Linked DNA regions of Homo sapiens. The protein of the gene in region 1 interacts with the protein of each later gene in a biochemical or structural test. Each region holds a gene or a part of one and is shown on either strand. Other genes may lie near its edges.

The links. Proteins that work in one complex are often made in the same cells at the same time.
Region 2: the proteins of LDB3 (region 1) and SDC4 interact in a test that uses a peptide from one of them, tested with the Homo sapiens proteins (one large-scale study listed by IntAct).

Annotation. Positions count from the first base shown.
Region 1 is NC_000010.11:86,727,452-86,731,102, reverse strand, and holds part of LDB3 (LIM domain-binding protein 3), read right to left. Parts: intron 1-3,651. UniProt on the Homo sapiens protein: May function as an adapter in striated muscle to couple protein kinase C-mediated signaling via its LIM domains to the cytoskeleton.
Region 2 is NC_000020.11:45,328,080-45,331,548, forward strand, and holds part of SDC4 (syndecan-4 precursor), read right to left. Parts: intron 2,486-3,469; coding exon 2,287-2,485; intron 1-2,286. UniProt on the Homo sapiens protein: Cell surface proteoglycan which regulates exosome biogenesis in concert with SDCBP and PDCD6IP.

The DNA.
Region 1 (3,651 bases):
GCTCACTGCAACCTCTGCCTCCCGGGTTCAAGCAATTCTCCTGCCTCAGCCTCCCTAGTAGCTGGGATTACAGGCGCCCACCACCATACTCAGCTAATTTTTTTTGTAGTTTAGTAGAGACAGGGTTTCACCATGTTGGCCAGGCTGGTTTCAAACTCCTGACCCCAAGCAATCCACCTGCTTTGGCCTCCCAAAGTGCTGGGATTACAGGCGTGAGCCACCACGCCCAGCCCAAGAGATGAAATTCTATATCCCCATGATGACAACATATAGTCTGAGGCTGGAGGCATCCCAGAAAGAAGAGAACTAATTAATATTTGTGGGGACTACCATGGACCAAGCAGGATGCCAGACACTCTATATACAGCAGCTCATTTAATTCTCATGAAAACCTTATAAGGTAGGTAAGCCTTTCTCCCACTTCACAGCTGAAAAAACTGGGGCTCAGAGGGCCCATACGTCTTCCTTAAGTCACAGACCTAGTAAGTTGTAGGCTGGGAATCTCTGTCCATGTCTGTAAGACTCCAGTTCTATGCTAATTTTTCCCCTACCCCATAGAAGAAAGGGACTGTGTTTACTTGAAATTGATCTGGGTTCATGGGTTTGTACAGATGTAGCCCTCTGAGTTTGCTGGACTACTAGTATGTAAGCTGGGCCCTGGGTTGGCAATATGCCAGTAGGTCAGAGTCTGCCAGGAAATCACATTGGCTGGCATGGGTCCCAGCTTAGGAGAGGGCAGTGAAGATCCCTGCTGGGGGGCAGAATTGGGAGCCATCTCCAGGACACTGACATCAAGAGGAGTGCACGTGGAGTCCCCACATACAGGTATCCCCCATGGAGACAGAGAAATCACCCCCTTGAGTTGAGCTTGGGGCAATATGCATGTATTCAGTCCAAGAGAGTTGGAGAGGAAAAGGGCACCACGCTAGCCCCATGTGCAAGGCTCTGATGGTCCAGTTGGGGACGTTATACCTAGGATCACACAGGGCTTCCAATTGGGTTCTGGGAGCCAATGAGCTGCAAAAGTGTTTGAAAACATCCCAGGTGGATGCAGTGATGCTGAGTATAACCAGGCTCGTGTGGAGGCCTCAAGCTGCTGGTGACAATTTAAAGACTATGCAAAAAGATGGACATCCAAGATCTAACTGGTGAGAATGGGCTTTAGGGAAGACAGAAAGGCATCTCTGGAATGAGTCAGCCTGTCAATGACTGCAGCTGTGGGTGGGAGACCATACCTGGACTGGGACAATGCTGGTTGCTTGTGAGAACTTTGGGATGAGTCAGGCTGGGGAGAGAAGGTGTCCAGGGACTGAAGACCAACAAATGAGAAAGGGACAGAACCTCAAAGATGGCTCATAGGTGAGATGGGGCTGAGGGTGGGAACCCTCATAAGGAGTTGTGCCCAGTGTCTTCTTGGTGCAAGGTGGCTTCATAGTGGAGGAGGCCTTCTGCCCACCCAGCACAGGGGGCAACAGGGATGGTCCAACCCCCAGGCTCTGTGGCTGGGTGACATCAGGGCCTGGCTATAAAAGGGTAGCGACCATGGACAGTGCTGACTGCAAGTCCCAGCAGAGTTAGGGTAATAAACTAGGCCAGCTGCAGCAGCCCCTAGGTCTGCCTACAAAAGTTATATTACTGCCCATCCCCTCCTGATACCCACACCAGTGGGGAAGGGCAAGACTTAGAGCAAAAGAGGGATGGGTAAGACATTTTTCCTCCACTAAGGTCGGACCCTTTCCATTGGAACTCAAGTGTCGACGCCAGACAGAAGCTTAACTTTCACCCTGACCCACAGTGCACTTCTCAGGCTCCCAGCCTTCACTTTATATGCTTTGGACTTGAGGGATACTGTCCTGTTCTACTTTTGAATTGCTCACATCTGTTGCTTTGTTCACCTTTCAAGATTCTAGATTCCGTCAGGGTAGAGACTTGTTCTGGAACACTCTTGTACTGCCCAAATGCCAGGAATATTTGGTAAACTGAGTTAGTCTAAAGAATGTGCTATCCTGAGATCTCACTGGTTAGAAAACAGCACATCAGCTGGGAGAGCTACCCCAGATCTTTCTCTTACTAATTTTTTGGAAGTTACAGGAAAATACATGCTCATCAAAAGTGATTTGGAAATATGAAGTGATAGAAAGAGGACCAAAAAAAAAAAAATCCCTCAAGTCCCTCAAAGTTTTCCAATCAAAAGATTTCTTCCTAATGTTAAGACCATGTTCCGGCTGGGTGTGGTGGCTCACACCTGTAATCCCAGCACTTTGGGAGGCCGAGGTGGGTGGCTCATGAGGTCAGGAGTTCAAGACCAGCCTGGCCAAGATGGTGAAACCCCGTCTCTACTAAAAATACAAAAATTAGCCAGGTGTGGTGGCAGGCGCCTATAATCCCAGCTACTCAGGAGCCTGAGGCAGAGAATTGCTTGAACCTGGGAGGTGGAGGTTGCAGTGAGCCAAGATCGCACCACTGCACTCCAGCCTGGCGACAGAGCAAGACTTTGTCTCAAAAAAAAAAAAAAACAAAAGAACCATGTTCCACTTTGCTATATGTTGACAGAGCAGTGAGTATCATGCAGGCTGGTTTGGAGGGAGACCTAACGATCTCCATGTTGATCCTCTAAAGGGCAGTGCTATGGGCCTCTCACAGGCTGGACTTCACTCTCTGGAACTTATTTGTAATATCAGCCTTAGCCACCCCAAGCTTTACGCCTTCTTCTGGTCTCTCTCTTGGACTTTTGCTGTTGTGACTCAGCTGAAATTGCGAGGCTTGCAGAAGCAGACCCACACTCACCTTTGCCACGATTCCCTCTGCATGTGACACAGACCTCTCATCAGCCTGCCCATGGAAAACAGGCCTTCTGTGCCACTGTCTTCCTGGACCTTCCCCAAGTCTCTTGGATCCTTCCAGAAGTTGGGTAACCAGATGTGCAGGCAGTGCCTCAGGACTAGACAAGCCATGGCTTGAATGTAAGGTTCAGAGACCCCTGTGCTGTGCCTGACACAGGGGAGCTATGACTCTGCAGGGGACAAACCCAAAGCCAGTATACTTACACCATTGTCTCTTTTTGGAGGGGATGTATTTAAAACACCCTAAAAGACAACTAGAGAATCTGTTCAAAGAGCTAGAAAATCAGAGTGTTAAGGGGTTGAATTGTATTCCACAAAATTCACGTGCAAGAAGGCAGAGTTTGCCGTGAGCTGTGATCACGCCATTGCACCCCAGCCTGGGCAACAAGAGGGAAACTCCATCTCAAAAAAAAAATAAAAAAAAAAAGGAGACCCACACAGAGACAGACACACTCAGAGGAGAATGTCATGTGAAGACACACACAGAGGGGAGACAGGCTTGTGACAATGGAGGCAGGGATTGGAGTTACACAGCTGCAAGCCAAGAAATGCCAAGGATTGCTAGCAACCGCTAGTAGCTCGGAGAGAGACTATGGCCTCCTGTCAGCACCTTGATTTAGGACTTCTGGCCTCCTGAACTGTGAAAGCATTCATTTCTGTTGTTTGAGCCATCAGTTTGCAGTAATTTGTCAAGACAGCCCTAGCAAACCGACACACAGAGTGAATACAGTGTGTCCCACAGATGGCGGGGTATGGAAGCGAAGTGTGGAACCAAAAGTATATGGCCGTAAACTTTATGACTAGGGTC
Region 2 (3,469 bases), on another chromosome or scaffold:
TTATCCTGCAGTCCTTAGCACAGGGCACTCTCTAGCTCTCCCTGTGTGCATATTTACCTATATAGCCTACACTTCATAGACAGGTATGTACATTCAAAGTGCACACATGCAGAACATACTAATTCCAAACTCTTATGTTACAATTACATACAGAACTCAGTAGCTAAGGCCTGGTTTCCACTCCTACCTCTCCTACTTCCTGGCTGTGTGATTTGGGGCAAGTTTCCTTCATCTCCCTACCGCAAAATGGGAAGAGCCATACCTTTCTCATACATTTGTCCTAAGGATTAAATAAATTAATCCACTCAAAGTGCTTAGAACAATGCCTAGTGCATAGCATATTCTCAAGATTCATTAACTGTAAGGGTTTAAGGTTTATATCTGTGTCCCGAACCCCCTGAATCAGGTGTGCACAACAGGAGGTGCTTAATAAATGATACTTTCAGGCTCCGAGAGGAGAACCTGCCTAGTGTTGGGCAGAGATGGGCTTCTAACAGTGAGTGGGTCTGGCCTGTCCACTCTGCCAGGTGGCCTGAATGACTCATTCCTGTTTGCTAGGGGCAGGGATGCTTCATAGAATCCCTTCTGTGGCAGATTGAGTTCCCTAATTCGGTCTTACTCGGGCTAAGAAGATTAATTTTCCATCCCTGCACACACTACAAATCTATGTACACAATGGGGACAGAGTGGCACAGAGGAGTCAAGCAAGGTTCTTTCTTGGGTAAAATCCTATGAAAAAGCAACAAAAAAGTACCCCCAGGAGGTGCCAGAGCAAGCACATGGAATATCAGGCATCAACCCCATTCTTGTCTCTATCACCTTTCCCTCTGATGACCCCAGTTCCTCCACGAGGCCCTGGGTCTGCGCTGGGATGCCCCACAGGGTCAAGTTTCAAGCACAGGCTCAGAAGCTGACTGTGGTCCTCAGTCCAAATGCCAGGTCTGCCACTTCCAGCTTTGTGACTTCGGATAAGTTCTTTAGACTGAGTTTTGTGTTGTACGGACTCAATCAGGGGCACAGGAATCATACAGCATACAGCAAGCATTTAATAAGGCTCCTGGGTGCTGATTAAAGCTTCTGGAATGGGGGATTCCACCACACCAGCTAACAATATAACTTTTCACATGAGGCTCTTAGGCTTGTATAATTCTCAAATGGAAGATTAAAGAGATAACCTGGCTTCAGTTCTTTTCTTACTATGTGGCCTAAAGCCTGGGCCTCAGTCTCCCCATGTATAAGAAGCAGGTGCTTAGATTAATCAGTGGTTTTCAAATTTTTCTTTAGAAGCAATAGCACCTTTAGTTAATTAGAGCAAAACCTTATGCAAATCCAAAGTCTTATGCAAATCTTTTTACTTCTGAAAGAAAAGTAAAAAGAACTTTGGCTCAGATACCAGGAAGCCAGGGTCAGGGCTGAGGTGGGCCCAGTCATCAGGGGCTGTGCTCCCAGGAACCCTCTTTACAAGAGGCAGGTGAGACCTTCCATCTGTCCTGGATGAAGCCAGGCTCTGTCCCTATAGCTCAAGCCTCCTTGGAGCTGCTGGCTCTGTTGATTCCCAGGAGACAGGAGTTACCCAGCATGGGCCCAGGGTGCCCACTTGCCAGGCCGGTTCATCCAGGCTGGCCCTCGGCCATGACCTTGGGGAGTTCCCTCCATCCCTTTTGTCAACACCTGGGACAAAGCATTCCTCACCGCACATTCCAGTAAAGAACTCTCAACTGAGGCCAAATCGGAATAGCCCTTTATAGTGTGCAAAGTTATTTCATATTTTATTTTTCATGGACTCATTATATCAACCCCAGAAGGTATCACTGTACCCATTTTACAGATAAGGAAACTGAGGCTCATCAAGTTCGAAAGCTTCTCAGCCAAGGTCACAAGGCTGCCAAGTGATAGAGTAGGGGGAGGGGAAGCTAACCCAATTCGAAGGAGCCTCCAGACTTACAAGGGAAATTAACTTTTAATGATTAACTCCCAGATGCCAAACTTATACAGTGAAAGTCCTTTGCAAAATAAATGAGAAAGACTTAAGGCAGAAGAATGACTCAATGCCTATTTTCCAGAAGACTTTGATAGGTGCTTTTTCCTCTCCCTCCACCAGGCTGCACAGTCAGAGCCACCCCATAAGGAAGGTGTAGTCTTTCAATGTTCTAGGGCAACCTGAATAGGCAAAAGGAAGGGGCACCAAGGAGCCTCATGGCTGGAGGCATCCCTGCCTGCAGGTGCTCTCCCCCGCTGAGCCCCATTCCACCTTCAAGGCATCTTATAAGCAGCATGGGGACTTACCTGCCAGGACCTCCGTTCTCTCAAAGATGTTGCTGCCCTGCACAGTGCTGGACATTGACACCTTGTTGGACACATCCTCACTCTCTTCAACGGGTGAGATTCTCTTGGGGATAACCTCATTCTCCTCTAGTTTCTTGGGTTCGGTGGGGACTTGGCTCCCAGACCCTGCCCTCTCAGGGATATGGTTATCTAGAGGCACCTGGATGGGCGGAAAGGAGAAGAGACACTCAGCGTATTTTGGAAGAGACTCAGGGCAGGGGACAGGGACATTCAGCCAGGCAGAGAATCTGGTTCTGCCATATTCAGCTGAACCATATGGTCCTGGAGCAGGAATTGGCAACACTGTCTCCACAATTATGCTGCCAAAATCCTTATCCCCAACTTTTTTAGTATATCTGTCCCAAATGAAAAATGAATGCACCCAAGGGAACAGGGAAGCAGGTGCTCTCCTGCACTGCTGGCCACTGGTTATTCTAGAGCAACCACTCTGGAAGCAATTTGGCAAAACCTTAGACATCGCTTGCCCTTTAAGGTGGCAGTTTTGCCCTGGAAACTCTATTGTAAGGAGCTCTTCAGAGACTACGTGTAAAAGATGCTTGCTGCAGCTCCTCTGCCTATGAAGTAGCCATTCTTTTATTCCTTTACTGTCTTAATAAACTTGCTTTCACTTTACTCTATGGACTCACCCTGAATTCTACCTTGTGCAAGATCCAAGAACCCTCTCCCTTGGGGTCTGGATCGGGACCCCTTTCTGGTAACATCTTTCTGGAGAACCACAGAAGGGATGAGACGGAGGAGACTCCCGAATCAAAGGAAATGGACTGCAGCACTGATTGGAGGACTTTGGATATCACCTTTTGTCAGAACTAAGAGTTATGAATGGCCCTCACCATACTGGCCCTTTCTGACTGAACCCCTCTCTACCATGGATACAAGAGGCCCTAATAGTTAAGCAGGAATATCATCACCCTATTCAGCATGAAGAAGTTATAGAAGATGGATCTTTGTCCCTCTGCAACCCTTAGGATTAAGGGTTTTCTTACAAAAGGGAGGGGGAAAATGTCAGGTGTTTGAACCAGAGTGCCTACATCTTGAATAGGGGCTGGGTAAAATAAGGCTGAGACCTGCTGGGCCGCATTCCCAGTAAGTTAAGCATCCTACGTAACAGAATGAGATAGGAGGT